Linked DNA regions of Homo sapiens. The protein of the gene in region 2 purifies or fractionates together with the protein of the main gene of each other region. This does not show direct contact. Each region holds a gene or a part of one and is shown on either strand. Other genes may lie near its edges.

Region 1 (4,531 bases), on a different chromosome or scaffold from region 2:
AGAAAAGTGAAACTACATGAACAAACTAAAATCCTCAATCACTCATATCTTAATCAAATTTTTACTTTTTATAATTCTTCAAATATTCTAAATATCCTAATACTAAATGTGATTTTACATTTTTATTTTAAATTATTCTCTATTAATCCTAGATTACAGTCAGTCTATTAAATAATCTAAACATGATAGCAACTTATATTTCTGTAACAAAGCACTCTTTAAGGAAGTAAATAATCTGCACTTCACTACTACCCTGTGATAGGCAGAACAAATAGTTATTACTCCCAATTCTAAAAATAACCAAGGCTCAGAGAGGATAAAAAGTTTGCCAGATAAATCTCAAATAAATTCTGAGACTAAGGTCTATATCTGTGACAATGAATAACTGCCGCTAACAGTCTAACAAGGCCAATATAATTAATAGGCTTTATAACAAAAAACATGACAGTTGCAGTAAATCCAATATAATGAATTACAAAGATAAATCAAATTAATTTGGGTTTTAAAAACACAGTTAAATGAGTTAGTAATAATTTTTGTTTGCTTACTTTAGAGGTAGTTTTATGCTCCACATTTACTCCAAGGGTATTTTGGATCCATTCTTTAAATGTTGGTAAACCCATGCCACTAAGAGGGTACCTAAGGTACAAAGAAAGTAAAAATATTAGAGCAAAGTATCTTCATTTAAATTTAAAGCTTAAATTCTGCTTCCAGTGATGGTCAAGCAGCTACTATCAAACCAACACTTTCACATGTAACTATAAACTCTGAACGAAAACAAAACAAACAAAACCCAGCTATCTAAAGGCAGTATAGACAGACCAAAAGCAGTCAAAAATAGGGGAGAAGGGTGTGCTACACTTGAAAAAAGGAAAAAATACTACATAAGTTCATAAGTTTCCAGTTTGGTTTTGTTTTTTCCATAAGTTTTAGCCTTATGGCAGGCCCCAGCTGGTGCCTCAAAAGGTAATAAAAATGCTGAAAATTTACAGTCTTCCTGGCTTAAAGAACCAGAGCACAGTGTTTGGGGTGAATGCTGCATCTGGAAAGCATACCGAGAAATCACAGAAAGAAGCAAGTAAGAGAGGAACCAATCTATCAGCTCTCTCCAAATGTCTGGCTGACTCTGAATAGCATGTATAGAATACATACTGGAATCTTCTAGGCAGCCCAGTTAAGCTTAAAAAAAAACTGGACAGGCAATTCAGCTGCTCACCACAGGGAGACAGAATTTAGAGTTTCAGATCAGTCAAGTTAATTGCTTGATTTAAGAAAAAAAAAGTCTTTTAAAGGTCTCTTCAGAGGAATATAACAGAATCCACAGCTCCTACATCATATCATGTACAATGTCCAAAACACACTCCAATATTACTAGACAAGAACAAACTGGAAAGTATGACTCATATTCAAGAAAAAGGACAATTAATGATGACTGACCCCAAAATGACCCAAGATACTGGAAGTAGCACACAAGGGTTTTAAAGCAGCTATTGTTGCTACGCCAATGGACAAAATGGAAAATGTACTCCTGGTGAATATTAGAAAAAAAATCTTAGCAGAGAAATAAAAAACTATAAAAAAGAACACAACAGAAATTCTATAATTGAATCTGAGACATTCCATTGGCATCTCATTACAATTTTAATTTGAATTTTACTGAGTACTTATGAAATTGAGCATCTATTCCTATAACTATTGTCCATTTGGATATCCTCCATTTTGAAAGCCAGTTCAAGTCTTTTGCTCATTTTCCTCCTGGGTTATTGTTTTCTCAATTACATGTAAGAAATCTTTATATATTTATAAAATGAAAGATACACATATTAGACATTTTCTCTTACTCTGTGATTTATCCTTTCACTCTCTTAAAGGAGTCCTGTAGTTTGGACACCAAACCCTCCAGACCTCATGTTGAAATTTGATCCCCTAGTGGGAGGTGGTTGGGTCATGGACGTATATCTTTATGAATAGATTAATGCCCTGGGGGAAGGGAGAGAAGTGTGAGTGAGTTGTTAGTTCCCTCAAGAGCTGGTTGTTTAAAAAGAGCCTGGCACCTCCCTACCATCTCTCTCTTGCTTTCAGTTTCACCATGTGATCTCAGCACATACCAGCTCCCCTTCCCCTTCTGCAGGACTGGAAGCAGCTTGAGGTCCTCACCAGAAGCAGACCCTGATGCCATGTTTCTTGCACAGCCTACAGAACCATGAGCCAAATAAACCTCTATTCTTTATTAATTACCCAGTCTCAGGTATTCCCATAAAATAAAAAGGTGACCACCTTCAAGATACTTGAAACTACAGATACAGAGTTAGTGTTACTATCATGTATAAAATTTAAAACTACCTTCTATCACTAAAATAAAGTCTTTATATCTCTATATCTGAATGCACAATATTTATTTAACACTCAGAAGACTGTACTTAGCATTGCAGAATACATGGAATTGGTATTATGACTCCTGTTTTTAAGAAACTTGCAACCTAGCTTAGTCAAAGCTACAGCAACATTTAATTTGTGAGATGAACACATGGGCAGAGAACATGAAACTTTAACCAGAGATGTGATAAAGGGAAAGTTAAGCACTTATACCAATTGTTGAATCACAGTGACTACTGAATGGATCTTCTTCTTTTCCATGACTGAAGATTAGTTTGAGAATATTAAATGGCTTTTGTTGTAAAATATAAGGTGAGATCAATTTATCACTTTCCCATAGGGCTGAAATAGACTATATTATAGAAGATACAGAACCAGAACAAGTTTTCAAGGCCAATGAAATCATTCTACATGGAAAGAAAAAATTCTGTGGACAAAAATTATCCAAGAGGGAAGTGCACATCAGGACTGACAATGACTAAAAGCAAAGTGACTCTCACTCTGGGGCAGCACATAAGAAGCAGCAAAAATATTAGTATATGTTGTGGGAAGTCAGGGACCCCGAACAGAGGGACCGGCTGGAGCCATGGCAGAGGAACACAAATTGTGAAGATTTCATGGTCATTTATCAGTTCCCAAAATTAATACTCTTATAATTTCTTATGCCTGCCTTTAATCTCTTAATCCTGTTATCTTCATAAGCTGAGAATGTAGGTCACCTCAGGACCACTATTGTACAAATTGACTGTAAAACATGTGTGTTTGAACAATATGAAATCAGAGCACCTTGAAAACGAACAGAATAACAGCAATTTTAAGGAACAAGGGAACACAACCAAAGGTCTGACTGCCTGCGGGGTCAGGCACAATAGAGCCATATTTTTCTTCTTGCAGAGAGCCTATAAAAGGACGTGAAAGCAGGAGAGATATCGCTGAATTATTTTCCCAGCAAGGAATATTAATAATTAATACCCTGGGGAGGGAATGCATTCCTGGGGGGACGTCTATAAACAGCTGCTCTGGAAGTGTCTGTCTCATGCAGTTGAGATAAGGACTGAAATTACGCCCTGTTCTCCTGCATTACCCTCTGGCTTATTAGGGTGGGGAAAAGATCCCGCTCTGGTAAATTTGAGGTCAGACCGGTTCTCTGCTCTCGAACCCTGTTTTCTGTTGTTTAAGATGTTTATCAAGACAATACGTGCACAGCCGAACACAGACCCTCATCAGTCATTCTAATTTTGCCCTTTGCCTTGTGATCTTTACTTTGCCCTTTGCCTTGTGATCTTTATTGCCCTTTGAAGCATGTGATCTTTGTGACCTACTCCCTGTTTGTACACCCCCTCCCCTTTTGAAATCCCTAATAAAAACTTGCTGGTTTTGTAGCTCAGGGGGCATTATGGACCTACCGATAATGTGGTATCACCCCCGGCGGCCCAGCTGTAAAATTCCTCTCTTTGTACTCTTTCTGTTTATTTCTCAGACCAGCCGACACTTAGGGAAAATAGAACCTATGTTGAAATACTGGGGGTGGGTTCCCCTGATAAGTATATACAATCATCTAGCCTCAGGGTGAGTTCCACAATTGCTAAGCAATTTAACAGCCTTTTTATAATCAGATAAAGCTTCAATTAAAAATTATGCCATCAAAAAGACAAAGTCTAACAAACTCAAATTTTTCATTTATATACTAACTTGTGATTTCTAAGTACCAAACTAATGTATAATACCCATAAAGTCAAAAATAGTGACATTTTTCAAAAATTTTAGTTTATAGAAATCTATAGGGACTGAGATGGCTGATTAGAAGCAGCTGTGATCCGCAGCTGTCATGGAGAAGAATGAAAATAGCAACTGAATTCAGCACCTTCAACTAAAATATCCACGTTCTCACATCAGGACTGACTAGGCAGACAGCTGGACCCATGGAGAACAAAGAAAAGGAGGGTGGGGTGATGATCCAAGTGGGAGAAGCATGGAGCCAAAAGAACCCCCACCCCCAGCCAAGCAGAGCAGTGAGAGATTGTGCAACCCCACCAGGGAAACCACACTTCTCCCACTCCATATTTGTAACCTGTGGATCAGGAGATCCCCTCATGACCCCACACCACCAGGGCCTTGGGTTCAATACACAGAGCCGTGTCTCAAAAGAACAGTC
Region 2 (4,531 bases):
TAGTAGCATACACCTATAGTTCCGGGGAGGGTTAGGGAGGAGGATGGCTTGAGCCCAGGAGTTAAAGGCTGCAGTGAGCTATAATGCCACTGCATTACAGCCTGGGTAAGAGAGGGACTTTTCTTCTTAAAAAAAAGAAAAGTATGTAAAAACTGATATCCTCATAATTGTTATAATACCACCAAATGAATTTAGGATAAAATATTTAGTTTTTCTCATCTCACTGCCTTTGTCCTTTTTTTTCAAAAAGTCAATCTCAAGATCCTCCTGCCTCAGCCTGAGTAGCTGCAACTACATGAGCACACCACCAAACCCAGCTAATTTATTTTTTTTGGAGAGACAGGATCTCTTTCAGATTGGTTCTCAAACTCCTAGGCTCAAAGGATCCTCCCTCCTAGGCTTCTCAAAGTGCTGGATTATGGGCTTGAGCCACAGTGCCTGGCCTCTCACTGCCCTTTAAGTAAAATAACAGCCCATCATTTAAAGAAAAAATTAACTCATACTATTATAGTACAGACTGTATTATATTACTAAAGAGATTAAGAATGAGCCATGACTGAAGTTTTGTCTTTTCCCAATTATTTTTCTAACTGCTAAACTGGCCAAAGCATTCAATGGTCTCCTCTAACTATGAAGATGGAGAGAGAATAAAATCATCCTGAGTAGTTTCCTTAGCAATAATCTGTACTCAGAGTGCTAATGAACAAATAAACATCTAAAGTCTCTTAGGGTTCTTATCTTGGTTCTATATTATTCAATACTCTATAAATTTATTTAAGTAGGATCAAAGGAGAATAAAGGGAAAATCATGAGTTCATAGCATGAATAAAAATTACAATAAGTGCCTACTTGCAGCCAAAAAAAAAAAAAAAAATCACCTTTTTTTAAGTCCTGTAGTTTGCTTCTAAAACAATTTAGTACTCAAGTGTAGCACGAAGAAGACCTGGTTCAACAAAGGTACTCAATATACATGTGTGGGAATACAGAGTCTGGTTATCAGAAGGCAAGTATGAAGAATCTGTACAACTCTATTGCACAATGAGCAAACGCTTTTTTAAGACTACTTTCACAAATATGTCATCTAAATCAAATGCATTAAAAATTGACCAGTAGTAATGAGATTAACGGTAGTTTTCAGGCATCTGAAAGTAAAGATGGATGATTAGGCCTCTGCATTATTTTCTACTTCAAACTCATGCCATGAAAAGGAAAACTGCTTCAAAGAATTTTACCATGCCACAGTGAAAAAGATGCACTCTAAGGCACAAGAAAAATGTGACTTCCCTACCCTGATGATACATGTCCCTGTAATTATGACAGTACAATATGCAAATCTGTTATGTAGTTATATTGTGTACATGCTCTCAAGTTGAAGAGAAATAAAAATTTAAGGCAGATTTAAGGGAGAAACCAAATGGTTCAAAGCTTGGTGGCCTACATAGTAGCTACAAATGGTATCATGCTAAATCATAAAGGAAAGTACCATGCACAAGTGCTACTATTCAAGTGTGACAAAAATATGTAACTGTATAAAGTATACCTTGGTCTTTTTATTGCTTCTACTGGCTTAGGGGCTTGAATGATGTGTTCCTGAAATTTGGGTTTTAATTCACATAGCTCCTTCTTCTCAGTAGTCTTGACTTCAGGTTTGACTGGCTCAGGTGGCTTCTCACTATTATGTCTACCTTTTGTACAGCCCTGTTAGTGAAAGATAATTCATTAAGAGCTATCTATTTTACATTTCATGATAGAAATATTATCTTTTCAGTTCTTTATTGATAGTGATTCTATTTCATGTTTTCTCCAGTTTCAATACATTGATTTTAAGAAATTAAAAACAGAACTCCAAATTTGCCATATTTGCTGAATCTCTGAATGACGGCTTTTTTAAAAAGTCTTTGAATTACACTTCATAAACATCTACTTATTCTATTAAAAATATGGCATAAACCTCTTGTTTACAGAAGAATTCTGGAGAATCTCACAAAGAACTGTAAAAAATAGTTATACAGAAAAATCTGTTACTCGAAAGGCCTCAATTTGAGACCTAGTTCTCAACATACTTATTAGTTATATGACCTTAAGCAAGATAATCTTTTTAAACCTCCATCTCCTCATTTGTAAAATGGAGGTAATGTCAGGTAAGATATTTTCTGAGAGAGTTAAATAATAAAATGCCTGGCACATTTGGCAGGTGATAACATTCAACAAACGTTAGCTACTTTTCTACTACATTCTACTGAATTATACATACTCTTTAACACCTCTGAAATGATACAATCAATAGCATTATCAGTTTGTTAGTAGCTTTAGTTTTCTTAGTGGTATATAAAGTGGTTTTATATAAAAGTGGTATGTAAAATATTTCAACAGCATCTTAGATAAAACTTTATCGTTCCTAACTGAAAAGGCTTTAAATTGTTGCTTACCACTTTCTCCTTGATGTTCTTTCAACATAACAGAAAGAACAAACCTAAAATGATAAGCAGGTAACTGATACCTTAAAACGTTAATTTCCAAAACAGATTCTTTATTTTACAAGCTGTGGAAGGGAGATGAGCTGCTTTTTGAAAGGTGTTATCTGCAAGTTGATGAAGACCAATCAATCTATATCAGAAATCAGACTCCTCAAATCTGAAGCTTTCTATAACATGTATTTTTAGGAAGATAATCTAGAAAAAATAATTAGTACTTACTACAATGCTTAAGAAATCAGAAAAATCAGTTGTTCTTCTCTTACAGCAAGACCAACCCTATGAAAAACAAGAGAAGGAAACTAAAAACTCTATTTGCATGAGAAACACGACCCACTAAAACACTCTACTTGCACTTATCTACTTGAATCCTGCAGTAACTTGCGTATAGAGTGCAAAATTTCAGTGTTGCATATAATTCACCTAATCAAGTAAAATGAATATTAATCTTTGATTTTTAAAAAGCCAATTAACCAATGTTAAAGTGATTTGTGCTATGCCCTATCATCAAGGGAAGCACCTTTATAAAACAAAAACTGTTTCTCTTTTCAACAATCGTGTCTGCTTTTTTTTTAGAAGAAAAACATGTTATAATTCCTAAAACTATCATATTTAAAGAATATTCAAAATAAGTATAGGTATTTTACTTTTAAAATCTATTAAGTTAAAGATAGTAACTATCTTTAGTTAATTTTAATTTCACAATAAGCATTCTATTTTCAGAACAACAAAGATTAATTAACACAGCAGCTAAAGCACTATTAAGCCTTTGAAGGTGATCTTTTCAGTGAGAAGCATAAAGACAGAGAAACTATTAGTATTTGTGATTTTTGAACAAACTATCAAGTAGTTTACCAAAAAATGGCTTTAATAATTATCTCTAAATTCCAATGTTTATAGAGCATAGGGAAACAAAAATGCAAAATCTCAAAACTTGGAACTTCAGATTAAGATTTGGGACTAAATTCAGATTAAGATGCAACTTTGCACACATCCGCCTGGACCTCGCTGATTTTCAAAAGACTGCATAAAAATATGGTAGTGATTTTTCTCATTATATGCACCTGTAGGTTCTTTTTCTTTAAAGGTAATTTCAAATATCCTATAATTCAAATTTTCCTTTAATTTGAAATTTAATTATCTTTTACTCCGAATTGAGATGTAGATCAATTACTACAACCTTAAATATAGGGTTTAAATAGCATCAATAATATAGTCAACAGAAAAGTTATTCTATAAGAGAAAAAGTTTTACTGTCTTAATCATGTACTAAATTATGTCAGATACTGTGATACACACATGTAAAATACAATACAGGCCAGCTGTTCCCAAATGCCAATCTGGATTCTATGCTAGTCTTCAGTACAATGAGAAAAGGAAAGATAAATTTAAGTTATGTGAATATAAGGTTGCTAGTTGTCTTTTTTCAGCAAGATTGTCCTTTTCTCTGAATATGCCCCTTCTAATATTAAAATAGTATTTCTTTTGTCAATGCAATGTTTAACTTCTTACTTGGTCAACTAGTATCCCTGTATTGATGTATACGCATTTTGTCTGAAATCTTCTGGACTGTGAAATCCAATAATCTTGGAAAGTCTAGGACTTTAAGAAATGGTTATAAAATAGAGACCACAATAAACACTACAACTGCAAAAGAGAGAGAAGCAAAAATACTTCAAAGTGAATTCATTAAGACTTGGAGTGATTAACAATGCGGTAAGAGAAAAAACGGGCAATGGACCAAATGATCAGAAAGTCAGTAGTATCATTACTAGGAGCAGTAAAGTTGAGAGGCAGACTACTTTTGGAATAAACGGTACACACTAGAAACTGGTTTGATGTTGCCAATGAGACACATAAATAGAAATATGTTGTAAGAGCCATCGGCGTAGAGGTGACATTTGAGAAAACCAATGAATGAACTGAATGAGAGAAAACAGCCAAAGGTTACCTTTAAGAGCTAAGAGGAAAACAGCATAGGGAAAAAAAGAAAAAGACACAGTAAAACAAAAATATCAGAAGAAATGGCAGTCTAGGAAAAATAAAATTCCACAAAA
Region 3 (4,531 bases), on a different chromosome or scaffold from region 2:
CAACTAAAAGACTTCTTTAGAGGGCTCAGAGAGAAAACTGTGCTTCAACTTCAGACAATCCAACATTCCCAGTGGTTAAGAGGTTGACTAAGGATTGGAAAAGGCTTTGAAAACAAAGAGGCATGTGACAAACAATCAAATTATCAGGCCAAAGTACTAGTCTTAGACTGCCTACCCACGTAAGTCAAACCAAACACCTCAAAGAATGAGAGCAAAGGTGACAAACGTGAGGAGAATCTAAAAATGAATCAGCTTGGTTTACGTAGTTTCCATGACATTCTCAGAAACTGCCTCTGAGAATGGCTTACACGAAGTGCAGTGATCATTTGAACAATTCTCTTAAAAACTCTTGGGGTACATTTAAAAATAACTAAAAGAGTACAATTAGATTGTTGGAAACACAAAGGATAAATGCTTGAGGTGATGGACACCCCATTTACCCTGATGTGATTATTACACATTGCATGCCTGCATCAAAATACCTAATGTAACCCATAAATATATATACCTACTATGTACCCACAAAAATAAAAAATTCAAAATAAAATAAAATAAACACTCTTAGGGAAATACTACATTAATCCCCATCCTTAAAACTGTTCAATGTTAGCTAATTAAAGTTGTTTCTTATTACCCCATTTTTCCAATTTATGCAGACAATATAAGCCCAAAACTTTGATTATTTTTTTTCAAAAGAGTTTTAAGCTTTGTCCTAAGTTCATAGTTCATGTATCAAAACCATAATTTCCCCCATTCACTCTGGATCTAGATCCTAGAATATAAAAATGCAATTGACTTGAAATGGGTAAATTAAACCCATTACAGAACAAAATAGGCACTATAGATTCAAAAGCAAGTAGTGCCACCCTGAGAGATTATGAGTTCCATCCCAAAGAATCAGAAATGAAAATTATAGAAAAGTCTAGGTGATGCGATACAAATTTTTTTTTTTGAGTCTACTTTTTTAATCTGGCCATGTGCCCGTGGCTCATAACTGTAACCTCAGCATTTTGGGAGGCCTAGACAGGAGGATCACTTGAGGCCAGGGGTTTGAGACAAACCTGAGCAACATAGCAAGACTCTGTATCCATTAAAAATAATAATTATTATTATTTTTAAAAAAAAAAAAAAACCTTGTCTTGTCCAAGCTCAGTCCAGTGCTTTGGATCCGTTTCCATCGGTCGTTACAGTTGCTCATCAGACCCCAGCAGCCAAGAATGGTAAAACGATCAAGAGCAAGGTTGCTTTTCAGGAAGCCTTGGACACCGCAGGCAATAAACTTGTAGTTGACTTCTCAGCCACATGGTGTGGGCCTTGCAAAATGATCAAGTCTTTCTTTCATTCCCTCTCTGAAAAGTATTCCAACATGGTATTCCTTGAAGTAGATGTGGATGACTGTCAGGATGTTGCTTTAGAGTATGAAGTCAAATGCATGCCAACATTCCAGTTTTTTAAGAAGGGACAAAAGGTGGGTGAATTTTCTGGGGCCAATAAGGAAAAGCTTGAAGCCACCATAATGAATTAGTCTAATCATGTTTTCTGAAAATATAACCAGCCATTGACTATTTAAAACTTATTTTTTTTTAATTTACAAAAAACATAAAGTATGAAGATTATAAACCTAATTGCCATCTGGGTGACAATAAAACATTAATTCTAACAACAACAACAACAAAAACCGCGTCTTACAAATAGTAGTGAAAACCTGGTAAAAAGTCAGTTTGTTCTGAGTATTTTTTAAAACATCCAAAGTAGCTTAGTATATTACAAAATTAACATTCATACTCCCTTATTTGTATAAGGAAAAGACGAGCCCCACACTAGTAAACAAGGCGTTTTCATCTAGGTTTCCCCAAAATGCAAGGACTTGAGACAGGGACTTGCATGCATGTGAGTCCTGGGAAGTGACCCAGGGGAACAGAATGGGGGACAGGGAAAAGTGAAACAGGGGAAGAGGGAAGGCCACCCTAAGGGGACTGTAGAGTAATCACCCCTGAGGGCTGAGGCTGGGGCCCAGAGGGGAACTTCTAAGGAGCCAGGTCAATTGAGGAGCCATGTAGATCCACCATCTCAAGGGGGTTGCCCCCTGGGATGGCAACTCCTTTGGATGTCCAGAAGTGCACAAAGGTCAGAATAGCTAAGCAGAACCCAGGTGGCGATGGCAGAGAAGCCTGGGGCAGAAAGTGGACTTGCGAGGTCTACACCTACCGGGGGTTGACACAGCAACAGCCAGGTAGGCACACGTCTTAGACAATACGTCTTATCCAATTTATCTGAAGGGTGAATTTTCACTTATTGAGTCAAATGTTTATTGGTGGGGGGTATAGGACATATAGTCCTTTCCCTTAAGTCTGGCTATCTAGACTAAGAATGCAAGAATGTGGTCAAGGGCTAGTGGAACATATTGCTTATGGTAGGTAATAAGGTTTTTTTGTTTTGTGTTTTTATGTTCACAATTATATTTGACAGTCACTTTTTTTAAAAAAGGTAACTTAAGGAAAGGTGGGGTGGGGACTCCAGAGCACTATGTGGATGACACATAAGTGTTGCCAGCAATTCAAATAAATAAAAATCGCCAAAATTTTGGTGATTCATGGGTGGAGGCTTCATGGAGGGTATGCTTGATCCGTGCCTCTAAGGTGTGCTATGATTAGAAAATGGGAAGCCTGTGTGGTTCAGGTGTGCAAGAGAAGGGGCAATTGCTCAGTTCCCACTGGGGTGGGGTGGAGTGGAGTGGCAGTTCTGGTTTGAGCCCAGTCTTCAGTATAAAGCCATTACTATTTCAGCACCATTTTCCTCAGATAACCAACTTTTATTGAGGATGAATGTTCCAGGCAGCAGTGTAAGCACTGTGTGTGTACTAACTGGCTTAATCTGTAACTCTTTGAGGGAAGTACTGTTAGTGTTTTACAGATGAGGGAAGTAACTTGCCTAAGGACACAAAGCTTGTTAAATGGTAAAACCGATACTCTAGAACCGGAGCAACCTGGCTCCAGAGCCCACATTTTTCACCCAAACGCTATACACTATGGCCTCTCAGTAGAGAGAAAAACAGAGCAAGGGAAAGAAGGGTGCCATCTGATTCATCTGCATTTAGGGACATATGGCTGGGAAAGGTCCAAAGGGCCGAGGTCCCAAGGGAAATCATTCTGTCAAGCAGCTGGAAGTCCTAATGGCCTCAGAACCATTTCCCAGAGAGTACACTTCCACAGCTGAGGTCATCAGAGAGCAGCACAGAAGGCCTTTCAGAAGGTTACCACCCATGACTTACTTGATGGTGATGTCCCTGGAAGCTCATCACCAGTGAGTAGGAGAATTCACTCTGACTTCAATTCATTGTGGCTGCCTAACTCTTATCTCTCTCTGTCTCTGTCTCTGTCTCTCTCTCTCTCACACACACACACACACACACACACACACACATCATTCTACTATGCCCAGCTAGAATCAGAGCAGGCCAAATAGAGGGAGAAAAATCCTTACAGACAGGGATACAATTTTAAAAATAAAGACTTGGCTTCATAGTAGATTCCTTGACTAGGAATCTAGCCAACTGTTATTCAAAATATTCACTGCCCTCCCTAGAGGGGGATTTACTTCCCCAGCCCAAGGGTCTTTCAGAGCCACTCTTTACAGGAGGATTCTCTATCCTCATTCTTTTGAATTTAGGAATGACCATTTACTTTGGCCAATACAATCTGCATGGAAGTGACCCATCTAAGAGCTTGAGAAGCCAGCTCTTGAGAAGCCAGGGTTCAGCATGTCTCTTTGTCCTCTGCCACCAGGCTGGCAATGCCCAGATAGAGGATACTCCCTCAGCCTGGGTCCTGGAGGCAATGCAGTATGCAGCAGACCTCCGAGGGTGGAACAGCTGCATGAGAAATAAACCCTTGCTATGTAAGCCACCAAAACATGGGGCCAATTTGTTACCGCAACATAATTTAGCTTAACTGACTGAATCAGATGGGAGGTCTGTATGCATGTTGGTCTAAAAGCCTTTGGTTCCAAAGCCTAGCTCTCCCACAAATTTGCTGTAGCAGATTAACTGACAACTTCTTCCTGTCTCATTTTCCTTCTCTATATTACTTCTCAGGTATTTTGTGAGTATAAGGTGAGATAATTGTCTTGACAGTAATTTGAATTGAATAAATTTGAAAATCAAGATGCTGAACAAGCTTCCCGTGCACAGAAGTTTTTGGTCAAGCCTTTTGCCCTCCAACAGCAGGTCAGAGTAAGTTTAATGAGTACCTTAATGAGATTCACAAAATTTATACTGGTATGAAGACAGTACTCAAAGAGATGAGATAACTAAAACAGCATGAAGTCTTAAGTAAACCCTGGCTTTTAACAGACTCTTCTCCTGTTTTCATAAAATCCAATGAGTTTTTAATTTCCTTTTTGGAGAACACTGATTGCCACTTGAAGTCCAAGGTGGAAAGAGTCCTACCATCTTCCCCCCCAGCCCCACCACACTCTTCAGGACTCAGTTGCTTAGGTCTAAGAAAATAATAACTTCTAGTTCTGAATCCTG
Region 4 (4,531 bases), on a different chromosome or scaffold from region 2:
GACTCCATCTCAAAAAAAAAACAAAAATACAAAACGAAGTCACAATCCCCTTCTTGAACTCCCCATCCATTCTTCTTCCCCTAAAATTAAGATATAATGAACCATGATGTAGTAAAGAATGATACATAGACTGCTTTGCATGCCATTATGCTACCTAGATCACACATAAAACAGCCAACTTAGAGGCCTGTGATCCTGTGATTTGTTTCTATAACCTTATCCATCAGACACTTGGGCCCACCCATTCTCCCTAAGCTTCAACCATCCTAAAGGAAGAAAAATCTACAATTCAGGTCTGGTTACTTACTCTCTTCTCCGCTGGTGTTAATCTGGACCATAACCTTTAACCTTTCAGGAGAACCTTTTCTCTGCCAGGAACTGTTCACTTTGTCTGCCAACTTCACAGAATCCACTGTTTCCAGCATGAAGAGATTGGGGACAGCTGTAATGAGACAGAGGCAAAGTAGTATTCCTTATTTGCTCTATTGCAGCAAGTAACATGCAACAAATCTCTGACTTGTTAGAGGAAAAAATATGCCAGGAAAAGAAAAACACAGTTAAATCTCAGTTCCTCTGAGAAGACAAATGTGACAGTTTTACTAGATACAAATTCAAATGTCAGACCATCCCTGGCTAATCAGCAAAGGTAAATAAGGGAAAAGCTGACATACATGATCAGGCAGCATATACATCCATAAGCTTCAAGAAGCTGGTAACGGACAGATTCCTAGTAAAAGGCTTGATCTATGTCTCAGTTCAAACTGAGAGAAACAGGTCAGGATGACAATGAAGAAAGGATGACCAGTGGAAGCCAAGATGCTTCCCTAGCATATCACCACAATTCTTCAACTTTCTGGGATGAGGGTATTCTTATCCAACAAGGACATCACCATGACCCTAACACTGGCCAGGTGTGGTGGCTCACACGTGTAATACCAGGTGGGTGGATCACCTGAGGTCAGGAGTTTGACACCAGCCTGGCCAACATGGTGAAACCCCATCTCTACTAAAAAACTGCAGCAATCCACAGGACAGATTATCACAGTTTACATAACTATTCCTCGTTAATGGATATTAGATTGTTTCTTATTTTTTATTACAAAAACAAAGCTTGGATATAGAACTTGGTGCTATGTACAAGTATTTCAGATGGGCAGTTTGCAAATATTTTCTCCCATTCTGAGTTGTCTCTTCACTTTGTTGTTTCCTTTGCTCTGCAAGAGCTTGTTTTCTTTTGGAGACAGAGTCTCGCTCTGTCGCCCAGGCTAGAGTGCAGTGGCACAATCTTGGCTCACTGCAACCTCTGCCTCCTGGGTTCAAGCTATTCTTCTGCCTCAGCCTCCCAAGTAGCTGAGATTACAGGCACCCACCACTACACCTCACTAATTTTTGTATTGTTGGTAGAGATGGGGTTTTGCCATGTTGGCCAGGCTGTTCTTGAACTCCTTACCTCGTGATCTGCTGGCCTTGGCCTCCCAAAGTGCTGGGATTACAGGCGTGAGCCACTGTGCCCAGCCTGCAAGAGCTTTTTAACTTGATGTGATCCCATTTGTCCATTTTTGCTTTGGTTGCCTGTGCTTTTGGAGTATTTACTCAAGCAATCTTTGTCAAGGTCAGGTGCAGTGGCTCACACCTGTAATCCCCACACTTTGGGAGGCTGAGGAGGGCAGATCACTTGAGGCCAGGAGTTCAAGACCAGCCTGTCCAACACAGTGAAACCCTGTCTCTACCAAAAAATAAAAAAATTAGCCAGAGATGGCTAGGCATTGTGGCTCACGCCTGTAATCCCAGCACTTGGGGAGGCCGAGGTGGTCGAATCACTTGAGGCCAGGAGTTTGAGATCCATTTGGCCAACATGGTGAAACCCTGTCTCTATTAAAAATACAAAAAAAATTAGCCAGGCCTGGTGGCACATGCCTGTAATCCCAGCTACTCGGGAGGCTGAGGTAGGAGAATTCCTTCAATCTGGGAGGCAGAGGTTGCAGTGAGCCGGGATCACGCCACTGCACTCCAGCCTGGGTGACAGAGCAAGACTAGAAAGACTAAAAAAGAAAGAAATATACATATATGTATTTGGCTTCAAGTGATCCTCCCACCTTGGCCTCCCAAAGTGTTGGGATTACTGGTGTGAGTCACTGCATCTGGCCTCAAGAAGCCTTTATGGAAATGAATTGAGCTGTGAGGTTGAATGAGTATAACGGATCATCCAGAAGGGAAAATGGCACTAAAACAACAGTTCTGTTAGGTTTTCCTGCCCCTTCTATGCCTGCTGGCTCCTTCCCCGCTCCCTCCTCCCATCACCTTTACATATTTCTAACATGGCTAGGTGCAGTGGCTCACACCTGCGATCCCAGCACCTTGGGAGGCTGAGGTGGGCGGATCACCTGAGGTCAGGAATTGGAGACCAGCCTGGCCAACATGGTGAAACCCCGTCTTTACCAAAAATACAAAAATTAGCCAGCATGGTGGGGCGTGCCTGTAATCCCAGCTACTTGGGAGGCTGAGGCAGGAGAATCGCTTGAACCCAGGAGATGGAGGTTGCAGTGAGCCGAGATCATGCCACTGCATTCCAGTCTGGGTGCAGAGTGAGACCCTGTCTCAAAACAAACAAACAAACAAACAAAATTTGTCCAGACTAATGTCTTGGAGAGTTTCCCCAATGTTTTCTTTTAGTAGTTTCAGGTCTTGGATTTAGATTTAAGTCTTTAATCTATTTTGATTTGATTTTTGTACATGGTGAGAGATAGGAGTCTAGTTTTATTCTTCTGCATATGGATATCTAGTTTTCCCAGCAGCACTTATTGAAGAGATTGTCCTTTTCCCAATGTATGTTCTTGGCACCTCTGTTAAAAATAAATTCTCTGTAGATGTACAAATTTATTTCTGAGTTCTCTATTCTGTTCCATTGGTCTATGTGTCTGTTTTTATGCTAGTTTTGGTTACTATAGCTCTACAGTATAATTTGAAGTCAGGTAATGTGATTCCTCCAGCTTTGTTTTTTGCTCAGGATGGCTTTGGCTATTATGGGTCTTTTGTGGTTCCATATAAATTTCAGGACTGTGTTTTTCTATTTCTGTGAAGAATGTCACTAGTATTCTGATAGGGACTGCACTGGATCTGTAGATTGCTTTGGGCAATAAGGACATTTTGACAATACTGATTTTTCCAATTCATGAGCATGGAATATCTTTCCATTTTTTCATGTCCTCTTCAAATTCTTGCATCAGTGTTTTACAGTTTTCATTGCAGAAATCTTTCACTTCTTTGGTGAAGTTTATTCTTAGGTATTTCATTTGTAGCTATTGTAAATGGGATTACTTTCCTGATTTCTTTTCCAGATCATTCACTGTTGGCATATAGAAATGCTACTGATTTTTGTATATTTATTTTGTATCCTGCAATGTTACTGAAGTTGTTTTTCAGTTATAATAGTTTTTTGGTGGAATCTTTATGTTTTTCCAAGACTCTACGGTTTTAGAATCTCCTGGTAAGACGAAGGAGTACTCATTTACTCACTCCCTCAAAACACTGGATCTTAGCAGTCTTTTTGATTTTTTACAAATCTGATTAGTGATTTTGTATTTCTCTGAGGATGAATATTTTTCATTTGATTACTGGCCTTTTGTATTTTTACCCCTTATAAATTGCCCCAGTTTTTGCCTATTTTTTTTCCCTATAAACAAAAAGATTTGTAGCTCTTTATGTATTCTGGATATGAATCTCTTCCCTCTTCAAAAATATTATTTTTCTTCCACTCTGTGCCTCCCTTTTGCTTTGACATGCAGAAAGCTTTAATTTTTGTGTGATCAAATCTGCTAGTTGTTCTTTTAAAATTTATTATTATTAATATTATTATTATTATTAGATAGGGTCTCCTCTGTCATCCAGGCTGGAGTGCAGTGGCACAATCACAGCTCACTGCAGGCTTAACCTTTTGGACTCAGGTGATCGTCCTACCTCAGCCTCCCAGGTAGCTGGGACCACAGACACACACCACTACGCCCAGCTAATTTTTTGTATTTTTAGTGGAGACAGGGTTTTGCCATGTTACCCAGGCTGGTCTTAAACTCTTGGGCTCAAGTGATCCACCTGCCTTGGCCTCCCAAAGTGCTAGATTTACAGGTGTGAGCCACTGTGCCTGGCCTAGTTGTTTTTTTTATGGTTTCCAGATTTTATGTCTTGCTTAGAAAAGCCCAAGAAAATAAAAATATTTTCCTGCATTTTATTCTAATACTTTTATAGCTTTTATTTTCAAGTTAGATTATTTAATCTAGCTGGAATTTACAACTCAATAATGAAAAGACAACTCAATTTAAAAAACATGCAGAGGACTGACTAGACATTTTTCCAAAGAAGACATAAAAATGGCCAATAAGCCCATGAAGAGATGCTCAACATCATTCGTTATTAATGAAAATCAAAACCGCCGGGCGTGGTGGCTCACGCCTGTAATCCCAGCACTTTGGGAGGCCAAGGCAGGCGGATCATGAGGTCTGGAGTTTGAGACCAGCCTAGCCAAGATGGTGAAACC
Region 5 (4,531 bases), on a different chromosome or scaffold from region 2:
CCAAAGAATATTGACTGAAAATTCCTATACCTCTTCCTTTTTAAATATATCCCTGAAGAACTGATTTAAAATGTGTCAGAATTATGAAAGTGACAGTACATGGAATTGTTTAACAGGATGTGCTACACCTCCCCTAACTATCCATATAAAACTTCTGTAGCAACACCTCATCTACACAACATCACAGGGTAAGTCACAGAAGTTAGTTTTCCAACATAATCATTTAATATTCATTGCATTTTAAAAACATTTTCATTCGAGTGTTCCTTTTTTTTTTTTTTTGAGACACAGTCTTGCTCTGTGGCCCAGGCTGGAGTGCAGTGATGTGATCTCGGCTCACTGCAATCTCCGCCTCCCGGATTCAAGCCATTCTCCTGCCTCAGCCTTCCAAGTAGCTGGGACTACAGGCACATGCCACCACGCCCGGCTAATTTTTGTATTTCTAGTAGAGACAGGGTTTTGCCATGTTGGCCAGGCTGCTCTTGAACTCCTGACCTCTTGTGATCCACCCGCCTTGGCCTCCCAAAGTGCTGGGATTACAGGCGTGAGCCACCGTGCCCAGCCTCAAGTGTTCCTATAATAAATTTCTTTACCTTATAGAAGACACTATGTTGAACATAATTTGACTTCTCTGCATGATTCAGTATCTTTGCTGGAAGTATGAGCTATACCTTGATGCCTGCAGGGTACACCAATGTGTAGACTATTTACTTCTTCTGGATCTGCCCACTCTTCTGAGATTTTATACTGTTGTCTCCACCAATCATCATCTGACCATTGCAATTAGTGGTCTAATTTTAAAAGCCTATCCTCCCTGTTCTGGTTCCAAACCTGCTAAATGGGTAATGGCAGCATTTCCCAAGATAGTATTCCAAATATGTTCCCCAAGAAAGAATTTCCTGGTGAAAGAAGTTTAGTAAACACACATTTCCAGGTCTCTTCACTGCAGAACTTCTCAGGGCTTTTACCGTGCTAATGTGCACTACGAATTTCCAAGACTGAGGATTTAGTCCTTCCCTCAACAAGGGAATATGAAGCAGCATTCTCCAAACACATTTATTATAATAGGAGAAACCTTTTCTACAGACTTCTTTTTGGAGAAGAGAACCTATTAAAAACTCCTGGAAGTTACATTTCCAAGAATCCATTTAGAAAACCACTGAGCTAGTGAAATCAATAAATGTATTAAATCGGTAGCCTTATTTTAGACACAATTCTACTTTAAAGTAGGCTCTAAAGGGCCCTTAAGTGGGTGGTGGTGATTCATATGTGTCGGTCTCTCTTTCTTGCTAGGAGAAAACTTTACTGGCTCACTTCCAAGTCTGTAATTGGGTTCCAGATGGTGAGATTTGCTGGAAGCTGAACAGTAGATACGAGGCCCTGCTACATGCGGTTTCATGGTCAGAATCAAATGAACACATCTGAACAAACTGTTTACCTGTTTATCCTCATCGTCCATTCTTTTGAAGGAATTTTTTTCTGTAGTTAAATATGGAATCTGAACCTTAGTTCCATGCAGCTCAGCTGGGTTCCCAAATCGTATCTCACCATCATTCTTTGACATCATAAAGCGAGGCAGAGGCAATTCTTTGGGACCAGAAATCAGAGAAGCTCTAGTCAGACTTAATTTAAAAACTGCAAAAAAGGGGAACTCAATGGCCAAACGATGAATCATTTTTGAGGAAAAATTCCAGAGCACTAAATATAAATTTAGATTTAGATACAATGAGTACTCCTATAATAACGTCCTGATTTTTAAAATGCTATGGTTTAACCAAAGTATTCTGGCTTAACATTTTTCAATGTTGCCAAATCGCAGAATAAATTCAGATTTGGGACTGATCTCCCATTTCATCCTTCAATAACCAAGAAAAAGGATATGACACTGTATAATACAATAATAAGTGACAAATGGTGGCAGGTAAAATTCATATAATGCTTAAATATGCCAGGCACAGTATTAAAGATTTGCAAATATTAACTCATTTAATCCTCACAACAACTCTGTATGATAAAACTATCATTACCACCCCCTCATTGCAAAAGTAGAAACAGTCATAAAGGAGCTAAGTAATGTCCCCAGGATCACACAACTCATCTGTGGCAGAGCCACGGTTTGAATGCAGGCAAGCTGGTACTTTACCAGTGCTCTACAGAATGGTCCCTTGTTCCTATGGCAAACTTAGTGGGTAGAACAGTTTCTCATCCTATGTAATTCTTTAAGGAATTTTCACATCCAATCTCTGGTTGTCTTTTCATAATGGAATAAGGAAAACAATATCAAGTCAGAGCAATCAATCTATCATTCAGCCACATTCTTCTGTCAAAACCATTAGCCACTCAAAATGCTACAAAGAGTTGAAAAGCAACGGTCTGGTATATTTACTCATCTTTCAAAATTCTAACAAAACTATTCTGAAAGCGGAAATGATACTTTGGCACACTTCTAGTTCTCAGCACATCAAATCACACACAATCACGTAGCACAAAACCCTACAAAAATGGGGACATTATGGATTATGCATAATGATTTGCATCTGTATCCATTGTTCAGGATAATACTCATCAGTGTGCCTTTGCACTTCCATCAGCTCTCTATTCCAAAAACACAGCTGCACTTTCAATGACTGATGCTGTGCTAAGGCCAGAAAACATCTTAGCAACAGCAAGCAAGTATCCTAGAGTTCCCCAGGCAAAGAAGGCCCCTGGTTCTCTAACATCCACATGATGTTTACTTTTAGTTGCTATGTTCACATTTGATTCAAAGCAGCAGGCGGCCGGGCGCAGTGGCTCACTTACGCCTATAATTCCAGCACTTTGGGAGGCGGAGGCGGGTGGACCTCCTGAGGTCAGGAGTTCGAAACTAACCTGGCCAACATGGTAAAACCCCGTCTCTACACAAAAATACCAAAAATTAGCCAGGCGTGGCGTCAGGCGCCTGTAATCCCAGCTACTCAGGAGGCTGAGGCAGGAGAATTGCTTAAACCCAGGAGGCGGAGGTTGCAGTGAGCCAAGATCATGCCATTGCACTCCAGCCTGGGCAACAAGAGCAAAATTCTGTACCAGAAAAAAAAAAAAGAAGCAGGCAATATGACAAATCCCTGTGTGATCAATCAGCCAAGGGCCCAAGAGACATAAATAGAGTAACCAATCTTAATGTTTCCCAATCTCGGGCAGCTCTCCAGCACTCAAAGCAGGAATGGGCTTCAAAAGCAAAAAAGCAAGAGAAAAGAAACTCTAGATTCTTAGTAAATCAAATATAAGCTAACTCTATGGTTTTGGTCTCAGGTATGTGCTCCAGCTCAGTCAGGAAAAAGGATCTAAAAAGATGAAACAAGATCACATAAAATAATTTGCACCCTGATCTACCCATAAGAGGATGACTCTACTTCCAAGTACTTCTTGAGGGAGAAAAGAAATAAATGCTCAGTATTTATAAGCTCCCTGACCAGTGCCTTACTGGCATTCAACAGATACCTCCAAGGAACAATGGAATACACTAACTGAATTATGAATATCAATTATTATATTAGGACTTAAGTAGGGCTCCCAGATATTGTCTAGGACATTGTCACTTCACACATTCTTCCACCCTGTCTATGGCATTTCTTTAGAGCTATGTGCCTAGAAAACCACCTCTCTCCCCCAGACAGCCACCAAACAGCAAAAGACAAAATACAGCTGAAGTTCTCTCATACTTTCTTTGGTCAGGTGGTTCCAAGCAACTCTCACTTAACAGAAGTATAACCATACATAATAATATTCTTATCATGGAAAACTTTCATGAAGGTGCCATTTCCCTTAAACTGATGCAAGCTTTTAAAAAGTGAAAGGTAAAAGTAGTTTGTAAATTTTCAGTCTGAATGTTTTTTTTGGTTTTTGTTTTTTTGAGACAAGGTCTGTCTCTCAGACTGAAGTGCAGTGGCACTAACATAGCTCATTGCAGCCTTGAACTCCCAGACTCAACTGATCCTCCTGCCTCAGCCTCCCAAGTAGCTGGGACTCCAGGTGCTTGCCACCATGCTGGCTAATTTCTTTTTTTATTTTTCGTAAAGATGGGGTCTTGCTATATTGCCCAGACAGGTCTCAAATTCCTGAGCTCAAGCGATCCTCCCGTCTTGGCCTCCTAAAGTGCTGGGATTACAGGCATGAGTCACCATACTCAACTGAATGTTTTTCCTAGTCACACATACACAAAATTTAATAGTGAAACTTTGAAAAAATTAATCAATAAAGTACCTGCTATACAATGATGTCTGTCAAGAAGAAGGTCTATTTGTAGTCATTGGTTAGAATCTTGTCTCCCAAACTGAATTGAATTACACACAGCAAACAAAGTAAGAGTTCACACTAAATGTTTAGAGGGTCTGAGGAGACAATGAGAGTGGCCATCCAAGATGACAATTTGCTTCATTGTTGTTTCATCTTAGGTTACATTCTTTGAACACAGAAATGCTTTGTATATTAAACATAAATGACTATTTTTCCCTTCCACAAAGAAAATTATGCCTGCTCCTTTTTAAACACTTGA
Region 6 (3,500 bases), on a different chromosome or scaffold from region 2:
AGTCATGCTGAAGTGCTCCCAAGCAGCAGAGAAAAGTCATGACATTACAAGAAAAAGCTGACTTGTTTGGTACGTTCCGTAGACTGGGGTCTGCAGCTGCAGTTGCCTGCCACTTCAAGATAAATGAATCTAGCATAAGGACCACTGTGAAAAAAGAAAAGGAATTGTGCCACTGCACTCCAGCCTGGCAACAGAGCGAGACTCTGTCTCAAAAAAAAGGAAATTTGTGAAGTTGTTGCTATCGCTGCAGCTATGCCAGCAGGTGTGACAACCCAGCACATTTTGCAAAATACAAAATATGTGTTATCGGTAAGGATTCTGGTCAACAGTAGGCAATTAGTAGTTAGCTGTTAGGGGAATCGAAAATTATACACATAGCCTGGGCTACACAGGAAGATCCTATCTCTACAAAAAAATTGTTAAATTAGCTGGGTGTGATGGCACACACCTGTGGTCCCAGCTACTTAGGAGACTGAGGTAGGAGGATCATTTGAGCCCAGGAGACGGCAGCTGCAGTAAGCCATGATTGTACCACTGCACTCCAGCCTGGGTGACAGAGTAAGACCCCTGTCTCCAAAAAGGGAAAAAAAAAATGTTATACGCAGATTTTTGACTGTTTAGGGTGCTGGCATCCCTAACCCTCTGTGTTGGTCAAGGGTCAACTGTATTTGAAAGCTGCCCAGTCATATTAAATAAATACCAAGACATATTCCAGTTTCAAAAGACATTTTTGGATTACCTGTAATTCTGAATTATTTGTGTTGATGTTCCCTGCCACAGAAGTGAAGAATATAAAACCAACCTCTTCATCAGGTGGATGTTTGGCTAAGTTGGTGAATCAACTTTTTTTTTAAGTTTTTTAAATTACTAGAGAAACCTGCTATTTAAAAGAACCCTATGATAAACCATTTCACTCTCCTCTTACATTATGTTTTGGATATCTGGATTTTCACTTAAGAGTTTTATTCTAAGCACCTGCACCTGAATCTTATCTGCATTGAGACTGAAGTAGAGCAGGATAATTCTGAAGGATGTATCCCCTCCTAGTGGCCGCTCTGAGAATAGGAGAGGATGCCTGCTAAAAGATGGGCTGCTAAAAGATAAGCATCTGGGCTTCTAACTCGTATCTCAGCCTTCAAATTCCCAGATTTACAGAGATCCTGCCTGAGCCAGAGCCCTCAGCTGTCTCTCACCTGATGAATAAGATATGTGATCTGGTGTTTCCGCCGCTGCTGGCCTGTTGGCTGCTCACCTTTCTTCTGCAAGAGAAGAAAACATATTCATTAATCCACAGGATGAAAGCAGAAGTTTCTCATGTGCCCAGATGGTGTGGTGTTAGGGGCTGAGAAGCCAATTCCACAGCCCAAATCCTGGGGGAGAAAAGTTGGAGCTGTTTTTACCTCTATATACTACAAAGCCTTTATTTTTATTAAAGCCATTATACAAAAAACCCAGCTCAGAACACTTGCCTGAAATAGCCTGCTAATATCCCCCACTAGACTGGAAATGCTTTGAGGTCAGGACTGTCTTCTGCGTCTTTGGTAATCCCACCCCACCCCTAGCACCCAGCATGGGGTTCTGTCTGCTGTGGACATCTGAGACCAGTTTAACTGCGTGCAGTCAGTCTGAAACAGTTTGTGGGCCAGGGCACAGGTGACCTTCTGCCCCCCTGCCAGGCCCTCCCACAATCCCTGTGCCCATCTCCCTTCAAACTCTCTTCATCTCTGTCCCCCTCTCCCCAGTCAAGCCAGATGTCTAGCCTGTCTCCCACCTACTGCTTATCAAGCTCGCTCCCATCAATCACCTCTGGCTAAAACCCCTGCCTTCCCCATTCTAGTAAGTGCCAGCAGCTTCCCTGGAATTAGAAATTTCACAATCACTCTACCTCTCCCCAGTCTTCCAGCCTCCGCCCGTAACTGCACTGAACCCGTAACCAAACTTCGATGCAAATGATTTACTGTCAAAGTCTATATTGGTCTGGGCTTTCATTCTGCGGTTTTTCTGTCCTCTGCCAGAGTTGTCTCAGACTAGAAGCTTCCTAATCATCTCCACCCAACTCCCAAAACTCCTCTCTAGAGTCTCCTCAGCACTTATGTCATCAATCTGTACTGTAATCATTTACACTCAAGTGTCCTTAAATCTCTTCTTCCCAACTATGCTGTCAACTCCTCAAGGACAAGGACCATATCTTTTTCTCCTTTTAACAAAATCTAGTTCAATATAATGAGACGGTGGCAAGAAAACTTGGAGATAGGAAAATAGCAAATACTAATTGCTTGCTGCTATTTAATGTCATTTAATGTGACAGTTAAAGATGACACACATAAAACATCCAGCTCCATTCCTGGCCCACGGTGAGCATTAACAACAGTAGCTATTACTATGTGACTATGCTTCTCGACCCACAGTTGGTAGAGCATGCTCTCCTAAGTGGTTTTTCCAGTAAACAGTGATGGATCTATGCTGATCTAACCACAGTCCTTTGCTCTGTCCTGTATGACCGCCAGCATTCAGTTAAAACAAACGGCTGGGGCTTGTGTGGCCATCTGTGGCCATAGAACAAAGCAAAGCAAATGGGGGGAGGAAAAGGGAACAAAATCCTCGACCTTGGTCTCGCTGGTGCTGGGCTCAAGTCCAGGGTTTTCCCACATTTCCCCTCCGGTGGCAGGCTCATAAATGTCCACATTTGCTGTTCTCAGCTACTAGGTGAAGAAATGTTCATCATACTGACTGAAGAAAACTAGGACAGAGAAGGCAGGAGTGTGGTGTGGGAAATGTGATGAATAAAAGCACTGGAAAGACTACAGCTGGCTACCATCAATAATGAAGAGAACACAGAAGAGTTGCATGCTCAGAATCTAGGGACTCCAGGATTTCTGAGGTGCTGTTGTGCCCACACCTCAAAAATGTGCTGAGCCAGGTCCCAGCTTGAAACAATGAACTAACCGGGGCCGGGTATAGTGGCTCATGCCTGTAATCCCAGCACTTTGGCAGGCCAAGGCCAGGGTAGGTGGATCACTCGAGGCCAGGAGTTCGAGACCAGCCCGGACAATATAGTGAAACTCCAACTCTACAAAAAAATACAAAAATTAGATTGGTATGGTGGCATGCACCTGTAGTCCCAGCAACTGAGGTGTGAGGATCACTTGAGCCTGGGAGGCAGAGGTTGCAATAAGCTGTGACTGAGCCAGTGCATGCCAGCCTGGGCAACAGAGTGAGACTCTGAAAAAAAAAAAAAAAAAAAAAAAACACCAGAAAATGAAAACAATTGGAAGGAAGGAAGGAGGAAAGGAGGAAAGGAGGGAGGGAGGGAAGGAAAGGAAGAAGATAGTATTTTAAAAGAATAAAAATTAAAACAAAAAAAGCAAAAAACTTTAAATCAAAAAAAGGAAAGAAGGATCTGACTGTACGGCAAGAGTAGAGCAGCTGTGGATTCTGTGCAGCCTGAGAAGAAGCCACAACCACAGGCTGGGAGGCCTCACCAACTACTCGATCTCAGC
Region 7 (4,531 bases), on a different chromosome or scaffold from region 2:
ATTAATAACACACTGAAGAGAATCCCCAGACTCATTCACCAGAAAGGTAATTAAAAAAATTATTTTTGGCTGGGCGCAGTGGCTCACACCTGTAATCCCAGCACTTTGGGAGGCTGAGGCAGGCAGATCACGAGATCAGGGGATCAAGACCATCCTGGCTAACACGGTGAAACCCCGTCTCTACTAAAAATACAAAAAATTAGCTGGGCGTGGTCGTGGGTGCCTGTAGTTCCAGCCACTTGGGAGGCTGAGGCGAGAGAATGGCGTGAACCTGGCAGGTGGGGCTTGCAGTGAGCAGAGATCGCGCCACTGCACTCTGCACTCCAACCTGGGCAACAGAGCAAGACTCCGTCTCAAAAAAAGAATCATTTTTTCTTTTTTACTGAGACCGAGTCTCGCTCTGTCACCCATGATGGAGTGCAGTGGTGAGATCTCGGCTCATTGCAACCTCTGCCTCCCAGGTTCAAGTGATTCTTGTGCCTCAGCCTCCCATGTAGCTGGGATTAGAGGTGCCCTCCACCATGCCCGGCTAATTTTTGTATTATTAGTAGAGAGTTTCACCATGTTGGCCAGGCTGGTCTTGAACTCCTGACCTCAAGTGATCCTCCCATCTCAGTCTCCCAAAGTGCTGGGATTACAGGCGTGAGCCACCATGCCCAGCCTTAAAGAATCATATTTCAGACCAGGCACGGTGGCTCACGCCTGTAATCCCAGTACTTTGGGAGGCCAGGGCAAGCGGATTGCCCACAATTATTTATATATATATCGGATTGCCCACAATTATTTATATATATGTGTGTGTGTGTGTGTGTGTGTGTATTTTTTGTTTGTTTTGTTTTGTTTTGTTTTTGAAACAAACTCTCACTCTGTCGCCAGGGTGAAGTGCAGTGGCGCGATCTCGGCTCACTAACCTCTGCCTCCTAGGTTCAAGCAATTCTCCTGTCTCAGCCTCCCAAGTAGCTGGGACTACAGGCGCACGCCACCATGCCCGGCTAATTTTTGTATTTTTAGTAGAGACAGGAATTTACCATGTTGGCCAGGATCGTCTAGATCTCCTGACCTGGTGATCTGCCTGCCTCAGCCTCCCGAAGTGCTGGGATTACAGGCGTGAGCCACCACGCCCGGCCAATTTATATTTTTTAATTAAAAAAATGTTTGTTTTACTTTTTTGTAGAAACAGGATCTCGCTATGTTGTCCAGGCTAGTCTTCAACTCCTGGGCTCAAATGATCATTCACCGCAGCTTCCCAAAGTGCTGGGCAGTGATTACAGGCATGGGCCACTATGCCCAGCCTGTTACCCACGATTATCACATTAAGTTACTTTTGGGTTATATATCAGCTAAAAGAGGCAGACCTTATTCCTACATCCAGACATTGCACAGAACATTACCTAAACTGCTTCCTTAAAGCCTATTTAGAGGCCAAGTGTGGTGGTTCATGCCTGTAATCCCTGCACTTTGGGAGGCCAAGGCGGGCAGATCGCCTAAGGTCAGGAGTTCGAGACCACCCAAGGTAACATGGTGAAACCCTGTCTCTACTAAAAGGCAAAAAATTAGCCAGGCATGGTGGCATGTGCCTGTAGTCCCAGCTACTCAGGAGGCTGACGCACAAGAATTGCTTGAGCCCAGGAGACGGGGGGTGCAGTGAGCTAAGATCTCACCACTGCACTCCTGCCTGGGCGGGAAAAAAAAAAAAAGCCTATTTAGAACGTCAGGTATCAGTCTTGATAGAAATAACAGAAGAAAAAAGGCAAAAGAGGATTGTGCACATATACTATATCAAAGCAACAAAATGTCTAGATAAAAGAAATTGCCAGCATCTCCCAGCTGTCACACTCAGGGCACCACAGAGATCAGGGTGGCAGAACTGCTCCTGGCTTATTCGTTCTCAAAGTCCAGCTCCCTTGTACAGAGATGGGCACAGTGCTGATGGCACTCACCACGCTTCTTTGTTCCCTCCTGGCATGAGCGATGGGCCATACCGGGCCCCTTCCTCTCCACCACTGACTCCGCTCCCCACAAATAAAATTCCCTTGGCCTTGAGGTCTCGGCACCGTCTCTGAAGGACAGAAAAATAATTTCATTATGCTTCCATGTTTCATTATGCTTCCATGTTTCATTATGCTACCCAAAAATGTTTCCCTTATAAATGAGAGGAAGTATAAGATAGGAATGGAGAGCCTACATTTACAGGAAATGACCCAAGGATCTAGGAATAACTGATGACTCAGGAAAGTTAATCCCCTATGTGTAGGAGTTAAAAAACAAAACAATACAACTATGGACATTCACGATACCTACCTCATCCCCAAAGTAAAATAATTAAGCCAAACACACATTGGCATTTTACTGGAAAAGACCTTGAATAAGACTCAACGAAGAGTAGGTGTAATACAACTTAATGCCATTCAGCACTTCAGAGCACACAGGAATTCCCTCAGCATTTGATACCATTAGAGGAGTGGTTCTAAACCAGTTATAGACTGACATATCATGGATTACTTGGAAGGGGAAGGGGAGGAGTTAAAACGTAATTCTCAGCCTGCTGTATCTGAGTTAGTCATCCTTTGAGTTGTATGTGTGACTGAGAATCTCACCCACCAAGTGTCTTTTTTTTTTTTTTTTTTTTCAGATGGAGTTTCACTCTGTCGCCCAGGCTGGAGTGCAGTGGCATGATCTCGGCTCACTGCAACTTCTGCCTCCCAGGTTCAAACAATTCTCCTGCCTCAGCCTCCCAAGTAGCTGGGACTACAGGCGCATGCCACCATGCCAGGCTAATTTTTTGTATTTTTAGTAGAGACGGGTTTTCGCCATGTTAGCCAGGATGGTCTTGATCTCTTGACCTCTTGGTCCACCTGCCTCCGTCTCCCAAAGTGCTGGGATTACAGGTGTGAGCCACCACACCCGGCCCTTCTGTTAAGTGTGTCTTAACAGAAAAAAAGGCTGAGAACTATTGTATCAGTAGTAATCTCAAAAAAATCAGTACCACAGGGCAGTTCACCCTACTGTCACATATGCGATGCTGACACTTTTTTCTAGAATGTTCTCGGAACCTGGAAGAATCTGGACTGAAGAACACTTACTGTGGTGTCCCTATATTCAGAATTTCCTCCGTCAATGATGATGTCACCAGTATCCAACAATGGTACCTGTAACCAGACACCAGCATTAAGATGGACCAAAAATGAAACATACCTTGGCAAATTAAAACAAACAAGAATTTATTCCAAATAAACATAGTCTAAAAAGAGTCTCGTTCTGTTGCCCAGCTTGGAATGCAGGAGTGCGAACATGGCTCACTGAAACCCTGAACTCCTGCAGTGGTGTGAACATGACTCACTGCAACTTTGAACTCCTTGAACCACAATGCCCAGCTAGTTTTAAAATTTTTTTTGTAGGCCAGGCGCGGTGGCTCACGCCTGTTATCCCAGCACTTTGGGAGGCCGAGGTGGGTGGATCATAAGGTCAGGAGATCAAGACCATCCTGGCTAACATGGTGAAACCTCGTCTCTACTAAAAATACGAAAAATTAGCCGGGCGTTGTGGCAGGCGCCTTGTAGTCCCAGCTACTCGGGAGGCTGAGGCAGGAGAATGGCGTGAACCCGGGAGGTGGAGCTTGCAGTGAGCTGAGATCGCAACACTGCACTCCAGCCTGGGGGACAGAGTGAGACCCCGTCTCAAAAAAAAAAAATTTTTTTTGAGATGGAGTCTCACCATGTCGCCCAGGCTGGTCTCAAACTCCTGGGCTAAAAGCCTCCTGGCTTGGCAGGAGGCCAACGCACCCAGCCTACTTAATCTTCAATAATCCTCTCTGTGGCCAGAGCTGCACACTATTTAAAAGTTTAGGGCTGACCAGGCTCAGTGGCTCACACCTGTAATCCCAACACTTTGGGAGGTTGAGGCAGGAGGATCGCTTGAGCCCAGGAATTTGAGACCAGCATGGACAGCATAGCAAGACCCCATTTCTATTTTTAAGTAAGTATACAGATTAAACACTGACTATAATGTGTCTAGAAGAGAGTGGGGATTCAGTAAATACATATCAAATGGTTTAGTGTATGAATGAATGATTTTATGACAACAGTTCGGAGGTCAGGAAGAGACAGAGCCTTGAACATGAATATCTACCTACAGCACACCAACCAGGCTGGGCTTTATTATTATTATTACTTTATTAATTAATTAATTAATTTATTTATTTATTTGAGACGGAGTCTCGCACTGTCACCCAGGCTGCAATGCAGTGGTGTGATCTCGGCTCACTGCAAGCTCTGCCTCCCGGGTTCACGCCACTCTCCTGCCTCAGCCTCCCAAGTAGCTGGGACTACAGGCACCCACCACCACGCCTGGCTAATTTTTTGTATTTTTAGTAGAGATGGGGTTTCACCGTGTTAGCTAGGATGGTCTCGATCTCCTGACCTCATGATCCACCCACCTCTGCCTCCCAAAGTGCTGGGATTACAGGCGTGAGCCACCGCGCCCAGCCTGGGCTTCATTATATTATTCAATCTTCCCCCTACAAGGCTCCAGT

What was found.
Region 1: the proteins of CHORDC1 (region 2) and AGPS purify together in Homo sapiens (affinity purification with mass spectrometry; one large-scale study listed by BioGRID and IntAct). This does not show direct contact.
Region 3: the proteins of CHORDC1 (region 2) and SEPTIN11 purify together in Homo sapiens (affinity purification with mass spectrometry, with the first as the bait; one large-scale study listed by BioGRID). This does not show direct contact.
Region 4: the proteins of CHORDC1 (region 2) and PLPBP purify together in Homo sapiens (affinity purification with mass spectrometry; one large-scale study listed by BioGRID and IntAct). This does not show direct contact.
Region 5: the proteins of CHORDC1 (region 2) and REPS2 purify together in Homo sapiens (affinity purification with mass spectrometry; one large-scale study listed by BioGRID and IntAct). This does not show direct contact.
Region 6: the proteins of CHORDC1 (region 2) and PRCC purify together in Homo sapiens (affinity purification with mass spectrometry, with the first as the bait; one large-scale study listed by BioGRID). This does not show direct contact.
Region 7: the proteins of CHORDC1 (region 2) and PGD fractionate together in Homo sapiens (co-fractionation; one large-scale study listed by BioGRID). This does not show direct contact.

What each region holds. Positions count from the first base shown.
Region 1 is NC_000002.12:177,430,435-177,434,965, reverse strand, and holds part of AGPS (alkyldihydroxyacetonephosphate synthase, peroxisomal precursor), read right to left. Parts: intron 640-4,531; coding exon 549-639; intron 1-548. UniProt on the Homo sapiens protein: Catalyzes the exchange of the acyl chain in acyl-dihydroxyacetonephosphate (acyl-DHAP) for a long chain fatty alcohol, yielding the first ether linked intermediate, i.e. alkyl-dihydroxyacetonephosphate (alkyl-DHAP), in the pathway of ether lipid biosynthesis.
Region 2 is NC_000011.10:90,212,478-90,217,008, forward strand, and holds part of CHORDC1 (cysteine and histidine-rich domain-containing protein 1), read right to left. Parts: intron 2,754-4,531; coding exon 2,697-2,753; intron 1,699-2,696; coding exon 1,541-1,698; intron 944-1,540; exon of another isoform or gene 879-943; intron 1-878. UniProt on the Homo sapiens protein: Regulates centrosome duplication, probably by inhibiting the kinase activity of ROCK2. Proposed to act as co-chaperone for HSP90. May play a role in the regulation of NOD1 via a HSP90 chaperone complex. In vitro, has intrinsic chaperone activity.
Region 3 is NC_000004.12:76,955,855-76,960,385, reverse strand, and holds part of SEPTIN11 (septin-11), read right to left. Parts: intron 1,663-4,531; exon of another isoform or gene 1,146-1,662; intron 1,115-1,145; exon of another isoform or gene 1-1,114. UniProt on the Homo sapiens protein: Filament-forming cytoskeletal GTPase. May play a role in cytokinesis. May play a role in the cytoarchitecture of neurons, including dendritic arborization and dendritic spines, and in GABAergic synaptic connectivity.
Region 4 is NC_000008.11:37,768,666-37,773,196, reverse strand, and holds part of PLPBP (pyridoxal phosphate homeostasis protein), read right to left. Parts: intron 443-4,531; coding exon 308-442; intron 1-307. UniProt on the Homo sapiens protein: Pyridoxal 5'-phosphate (PLP)-binding protein, which may be involved in intracellular homeostatic regulation of pyridoxal 5'-phosphate (PLP), the active form of vitamin B6.
Region 5 is NC_000023.11:17,019,179-17,023,709, reverse strand, and holds part of REPS2 (ralBP1-associated Eps domain-containing protein 2), read right to left. Parts: intron 1,588-4,531; coding exon 1,439-1,587; intron 1-1,438. UniProt on the Homo sapiens protein: Involved in ligand-dependent receptor mediated endocytosis of the EGF and insulin receptors as part of the Ral signaling pathway. By controlling growth factor receptors endocytosis may regulate cell survival.
Region 6 is NC_000001.11:156,795,035-156,798,534, reverse strand, and holds part of PRCC (proline-rich protein PRCC), read right to left. Parts: intron 1,260-3,500; coding exon 1,194-1,259; intron 1-1,193. UniProt on the Homo sapiens protein: May regulate cell cycle progression through interaction with MAD2L2.
Region 7 is NC_000001.11:10,401,689-10,406,219, reverse strand, and holds part of PGD (6-phosphogluconate dehydrogenase, decarboxylating), read right to left. Parts: intron 3,150-4,531; coding exon 3,084-3,149; intron 2,060-3,083; coding exon 1,941-2,059; intron 1-1,940. UniProt on the Homo sapiens protein: Catalyzes the oxidative decarboxylation of 6-phosphogluconate to ribulose 5-phosphate and CO(2), with concomitant reduction of NADP to NADPH.